Linked DNA regions of Homo sapiens. The protein of the gene in region 2 purifies or fractionates together with the protein of the main gene of each other region. This does not show direct contact. Each region holds a gene or a part of one and is shown on either strand. Other genes may lie near its edges.

Region 1 (2,256 bases), on a different chromosome or scaffold from region 2:
TAAAAATAATTTAAGCACAATATTAATAACAAAGCAACTTTTTTTCAAGGAAAACTAGTAGGTCATCTTGCCCAAGATTTTTCCAAAGGTATTAAATATATTTTCAATAACAGTACATACAAATACACATACACAAATATACCACACAGACACATGTGCACATACATGCACACACACACACACACACACACACACACACACACATATATATATACAGCTCAAGTATTTTTTTGGTGTGCATTCTAGCTAATCCACATAGCTAAAGTGAAAAAACACTGAAAAGATCAATGCCTGAGTAACCTTAAATTTGAACAAACTATGCATTGGATGTGAATTTTTGGAGGCATGCTAAGATTTCCCTTCTCAATTTCATTAGCTACTACCCAGTGTTCTGTGGTTCTTATCCTTAAAAAAATCAAAGTGTGCCTTTCAGATCTGCTCACGGTGTGGTGATGATTATTATGGTGGCGTCAATTTGGGAACACTTGCCCTCTCTTGCTCCTACTGCACCTTATGGATGGGAAAGGGAATGATTTTAAAGGTAAAGCACTCAGGCCCTGATTACATCTGGCTTATTCTTTGCTTCAAGGCAAGGATCTCTCTCTCGATTTCACAGGGGAGGTCGGCATTGACTTGATCCTCCAGATACTTCTCGATGTCTTCCACCTCCTTCTCCCAGAATTCCTTGGAGATGCTGAAAAGCTCCATCATGTTGATGTGCCCCAGGCCTTTCAGGTTCAGGGCATCCTCCTTGGGGATGTAGCCTATGGGCGTGAGCTTGGTGCTGGCTTTTCCATCGATCCGGTTGAACATCCACTCCAGCACCCTGGAGTTCTCTCCAAAGCCTGGCCAGAGGAATTTGCCTTCCTTGTCCTTCCGGAACCAGTTGACATGGAAGATCTTGGGCAGTTTGGCTGCTGGGTGCTGGGCCATGCTAAGCCAGTGGGCCAGGTATTTGCCGAAGTTGTAGCCAAAGAAGGGCCGCATGGCAAAGGGGTCATGCATGATGATTTTGCCTGTTAAACAGAGAGGGAGTTCATTAGTAAATGAGGCTCTCCTAGGCAAGACTGACGCCATTGATTGTTGACATTAGCATGCTTTGTTCTCCTCTCTCTCTTTCTCTCTCTCTCTCTCCCCACACACAGACACAGAAAAGGAGAGAGACATAAGAGTGACGAAGAGTGCTCTAATCCCACTTCTCTGTGGTTTCAGATCAGGACTTTGATTTACCTTTATGTTCTGCAGCCGCTGTGGCCTCTGATCTCATGGCCGCCCCCACAAAGACTCCATGTTGCCAGCTGAGAGCTTCATAGACTAGAGGGACACCTTTAGCAGGAAAAAAAAAGAGAAATGTTCATCAGAGGCTTTGAAATTCAGACTCCACAACCAGTGGTGTTATTCACAACACGGAAAGACACGGCAAGACAATAACTTTGTAATCGAGCTAGTTTTGCGTTCACCAAGCTAAATTGCAGAAAACTGCTAACTCAAAGTTACATGACTGAGGCCACAAAGTAAAAAGTAAAATTTGATCAAGCTACAATAGATCAGGGATTCAGAAAGGTTCCAGGTGACCAGAAGGGTTGGTTCTACATTTGAACTTGCCAATTATTCTGGATCTTTGGGAAGGAAGCTCAAGAAAGGAAGCCCCTGGGCACCCTCTGACAAGGTCATGGAAAAGGAGAGATTTCACAGATGCCCTTCGGTACCCAGCACACCCATGTTCCCAGCCTAAATGAAGGAGAGCCTCACCAGCAGGTCTACGGCCTCCAAAGATAATGCCTTCAATGGGAACACCTTCCGGAGACTCCCAGGCAGCATCAATGATGGGGCACTGGCTGGCAGGGGTGCAGAACCTCGAGTTGGGGTGGGCACAAGGTTCCCCTATAAGACAGAGAAAGGCTCGTGAGTGCCTGGCTCAAACAGGCAGTCCCTGCAGCCCGGCACACCAAGGCCTCTGGCAGGGACACACCATCCTCTGAGCTCCACTCCTTATTCTTCCAGGACGTGATGGTGACACCTGAAGCTAGCGGCTCATCAATGCCTTCCCAGTAAACGCCCCCGTCGCTGGTCTCGGCCACATTGGTAAAGATTGTGTTCTTCTGGATGGTCTTGATGGCATTGGGGTTGGTCTTCACTGAAGTCCCAGGAGCGACACCGAAAAAGCCATTTTCTGGGTTGATGGCCCTTAAATGACCTGGAGAGTTTTAAACCAGAGAAGCAGTAGTGAGTGCCAGGCAAAGCAGAACATATACT
Region 2 (3,500 bases):
TATTACCACTTGTGAAAACCGAGGTTTGGAGAGATGAGTTACCTTGTCCAATATCTTATAGCCATTAAACTGCAGAGCTGGGTTTGAAGCAAGGCCTGGCTGTCTTCAAAGTCTGTGCCCTTTCCACCTCAGCAGGATGCTGGTCCTTGTAGGGAAGGATTGGCACTGACATCTCAAGAACTTTGGCCACCGTAACAGAGCCTGTGTCCCTTCCTCACAGGTGTGTGCTGAAGATGGATCACCACTGCCGTATCCTTTTGCTTTCTCTTCTGCCTGAGGCCTTCTTTAGCTCCAGAGCACTGTACAGGGTTAATGGCCACCATTTTAGCATCACCGTGCAGAGAACACTGGAGTTGAGGAGTTGTGGGGCCTGACCATCTCCTGGGAGAGCAGGAAGCTCACACTCTAGGACGGATCTTCTTGGAGCAGGGAATCTTTTAACACCTCTTTCTTTTCTAGACTCTCATGCTAACAGCTATTGGATGGAAAGAGATGTTTGGGCTTCTGTGGTTGTTTACTGTGTACGCCAGATAGAACCGTGGGTCTCCAGCTGCTGTTCCACACAGATGTTTGGCTAACTCCAGCTAGGCTGAAATATTGGCAGATTCATTTTACTGAAGGATTTCAGTTTCCGTGACTTCTTGGTGGGACCTGAATGCTCTGAAAAGCTTTGAGCATTTTCACCTCAACCTTGGGTGTGAACAGTCTTGTATTTTCTTGCCTTTGGAAAGTAGTTCTTAGTGACTGGAAGCCTGAGGCTTGGGTGATATTGTCAGGAACCAGGGATGAACCTGAGGGGCCTGGACACCGCCTGAAATTGTGTTTGATTCTAGTCCTTAATCATTTCCCAACCAGCCTGGCTAAACAATTGTGTGGGCCACTATAACCATCGGTACTTCTTCTCTTTCTGCTTTTTCATGACTCTGGGCTGTGTCTACTGCAGCTATGGAAGTTGGGACCTTTTCCGGGAGGCTTATGCTGCCATTGAGGTGAGCTCATCAGGAACAGGGCAGCTCAGTAGTGCAGAACTTCGGGATGTAGAACCTGTCCCTAAGGAATGGGGCTGGTAGCACCCCATCCTAGAGGCCTGAGAGTATAACCAGCACTGTTTTCCGTCCCCTTAGAAAATGAAACAGCTCGACAAGAACAAACTACAGGCGGTTGCCAACCAGGTGGGCTGTCCCCACCCCACTGCCTCCTGCTGCTCAGGCCTGGGGGTATAGAGTTGCTAAGGCATCTGGGGCCGACCTGCCCATGTAGTTGTAGAGGCTGCCGAGAGGCCACTCTAGACCAGATCAGGAGTGTTCAGGCAGGCTGGCTGTGGTGGGTAGACTAAGTGGCCTACAGGCAAGCTGGAAGTCCCTGGTATGTGACAGTTTTGGCTATCTATCCCGTCATCACCTCTCTTTGGGTCGAGCAAGCAATCTGCCTTGGTGATGGCCTGAGCAGCAAGGAGTCTATGTTAGTCTGTGTAATGGGGTTCCAGGGGACAGAGATCAGGCAGAGCCAGTCTGATCATCCCTTGCTCCTGGTCCATCTGCATCTGGATCATCCCTGCCCCCCCAGTACCTTTTAGGACTCCCTAATCTGCTGAGCCCATCTTGATTGTATTTCTGCTGCCCTTTCACAGTCCCTAGTGGAGCTCACAGTCCCTAGTGGTTTTCCCCACTCCAGTCAGTCCATTCTGGGTATGGTCTGGTCTCCTCTCTTGGGGATGCAGCTGTGCAGTGAAGGAGTTCTGGCTGGGGATTGGAGTGGCTTCCCCTGGAGCCCCATTTGTGTTGTCACTCTACAGGCCCAGGGTCAGCTTCTCCTGTGCTTCACCATCCTGTCCAGACCCTGCTCTGCTGCCCAGTGTTTGTCCATGTGGTGATGCCGCTGGGCTTGGTCCACCCATCTTGGCTGCTACCCTAACTCCTCTGTGGCTTTACCCTGTTTTCTCTGCCTGGATTTGGATCATTTCCTGCCTATAGGTGCTGGGGGCAGTTGCTGGAGACCCACAGAGCAAATGAGCCAGCTTTGCTGTTTTCTTTTTCTAGACTTATCACCAGACCCCACCACCCACCTTCTCCTTTCGAGAAAGGATGACTCACAAGAGTCTTGTCTACCTCTGGTTCCTGTGCAGGTATTTGTTTTTGATAGTTTTAAGGGAGGGGAAGCTTCAGAAAAAAAGTTTTTTAGGTGCCCACACGCAGGCAGAAACCCATTCCTAAGTGAACTGCCACTGCTCTAGTCTAACTTAGGTTGGCAGAGAGCCAGCACTTTCTTCAGCATTCAGGGCAGGGAGCACTGAGGATATTGGCATTGCTTATTACTAAGCACACAGATACAAGTATGTGCTTGATATGTAACCAAAGTAAGTTAAACTCCTTATTTAATCTTAGCACCTGTCTAAAGGCTGGGTGACTGTATTTATAGATGAGGAAAACTGAAAATTGGGGGCCAAGGGGCAGTGAAGTGAAGTGACTTGTTCTATGATACACAGCTAGTAGGAATATTAGCACTGGAATTTGAATTTCATGCCATCCCATTCCAACCCTGGGTGTTTACTACTTCCCACTATCTCCCAAGCATGGGTATTTTAGGAAATATAGAACATTTTCTCAGCAATACAGACTTATTTCTCTATTCTCCTTTCCACATACTCTCTTTTCCCTTAACAACAACAGAGATGGAGTCTTGCTATGTTGCCCAGGCTAGACTCAAATGATCTTCCTATCTCAGTCTCCTGAGTTGCTGGGACTACTAGGCATGAGCTACCATGCCTGGCTTCACATCATTTATTCTTAGGCCACTTTGATGCTTTTTCATTGATGCTCTTTATAGACATAGTGAAGTAAAAGTTTATCTAGGATATATGGTGGGAGGTGAGGAAGACTTAGGTAGAGAGGTTCCAAACCAGTTGTTACTGCTTAGCTCAATTTCAGACATACTTCCTCCAGCCCTCTCTAAACTACCCACCAGTCTTCGCCCCTCTTTTCTTAGTTCTGTGGCACTTGCCCTGGGTGCCCTAACTGTATGGCATGCTGTTCTCATCAGTCGAGGTGAGACTAGCATCGAAAGGCACATCAACAAGAAGGAGAGACGTCGGCTACAGGCCAAGGGCAGAGTGAGTAGGGTTGAAGGCTCGGGGTGGGTAGGTGGGTAACTGAACTTGCTCTCCTGTAAACAGAGGCCATGGGCAGGGCTGACTAGGGCAAGCATTGTAAAAGGCCAGAACTACTCTATCTGAGCTTTAGCTTAGCCAATTTAGTCTGAAAAATTAGAAGTTCAAAGAAACATGTTTTTCTTGGCTCCAGGTATTTAGGAATCCTTACAACTACGGCTGCTTGGACAACTGGAAGGTATTCCTGGGTGTGGATACAGGAAGGTAATGTAAGACACACAGACTAATGCTGTCCAACAGAACACTGTGATGAGAAAGATGTTCTATGCCTGTGAGCACTTGGAATATGGCTAGTGGCTACTGTGTTAGCACAGTTCTAGACTCTAGGAATAGA

The links. Proteins that work in one complex are often made in the same cells at the same time.
Region 1: the proteins of ZDHHC16 (region 2) and PCK1 purify together in Homo sapiens (affinity purification with mass spectrometry; one large-scale study listed by BioGRID and IntAct). This does not show direct contact.

The regions. Positions count from the first base shown.
Region 1 is NC_000020.11:57,564,110-57,566,365, reverse strand, and holds part of PCK1 (phosphoenolpyruvate carboxykinase, cytosolic [GTP]), read right to left. Parts: intron 2,198-2,256; coding exon 1,973-2,197; intron 1,885-1,972; coding exon 1,753-1,884; intron 1,327-1,752; coding exon 1,231-1,326; intron 1,017-1,230; coding exon 562-1,016; 3' UTR 1-561. UniProt on the Homo sapiens protein: Cytosolic phosphoenolpyruvate carboxykinase that catalyzes the reversible decarboxylation and phosphorylation of oxaloacetate (OAA) and acts as the rate-limiting enzyme in gluconeogenesis.
Region 2 is NC_000010.11:97,452,675-97,456,174, forward strand, and holds part of ZDHHC16 (palmitoyltransferase ZDHHC16), read left to right. Parts: intron 1-220; coding exon 221-249; intron 250-855; coding exon 856-989; intron 990-1,124; coding exon 1,125-1,172; intron 1,173-2,039; coding exon 2,040-2,125; intron 2,126-2,927; coding exon of another isoform or gene 2,928-2,985; coding exon 2,986-3,109; intron 3,110-3,299; coding exon 3,300-3,370; intron 3,371-3,500. UniProt on the Homo sapiens protein: Palmitoyl acyltransferase that mediates palmitoylation of proteins such as PLN and ZDHHC6.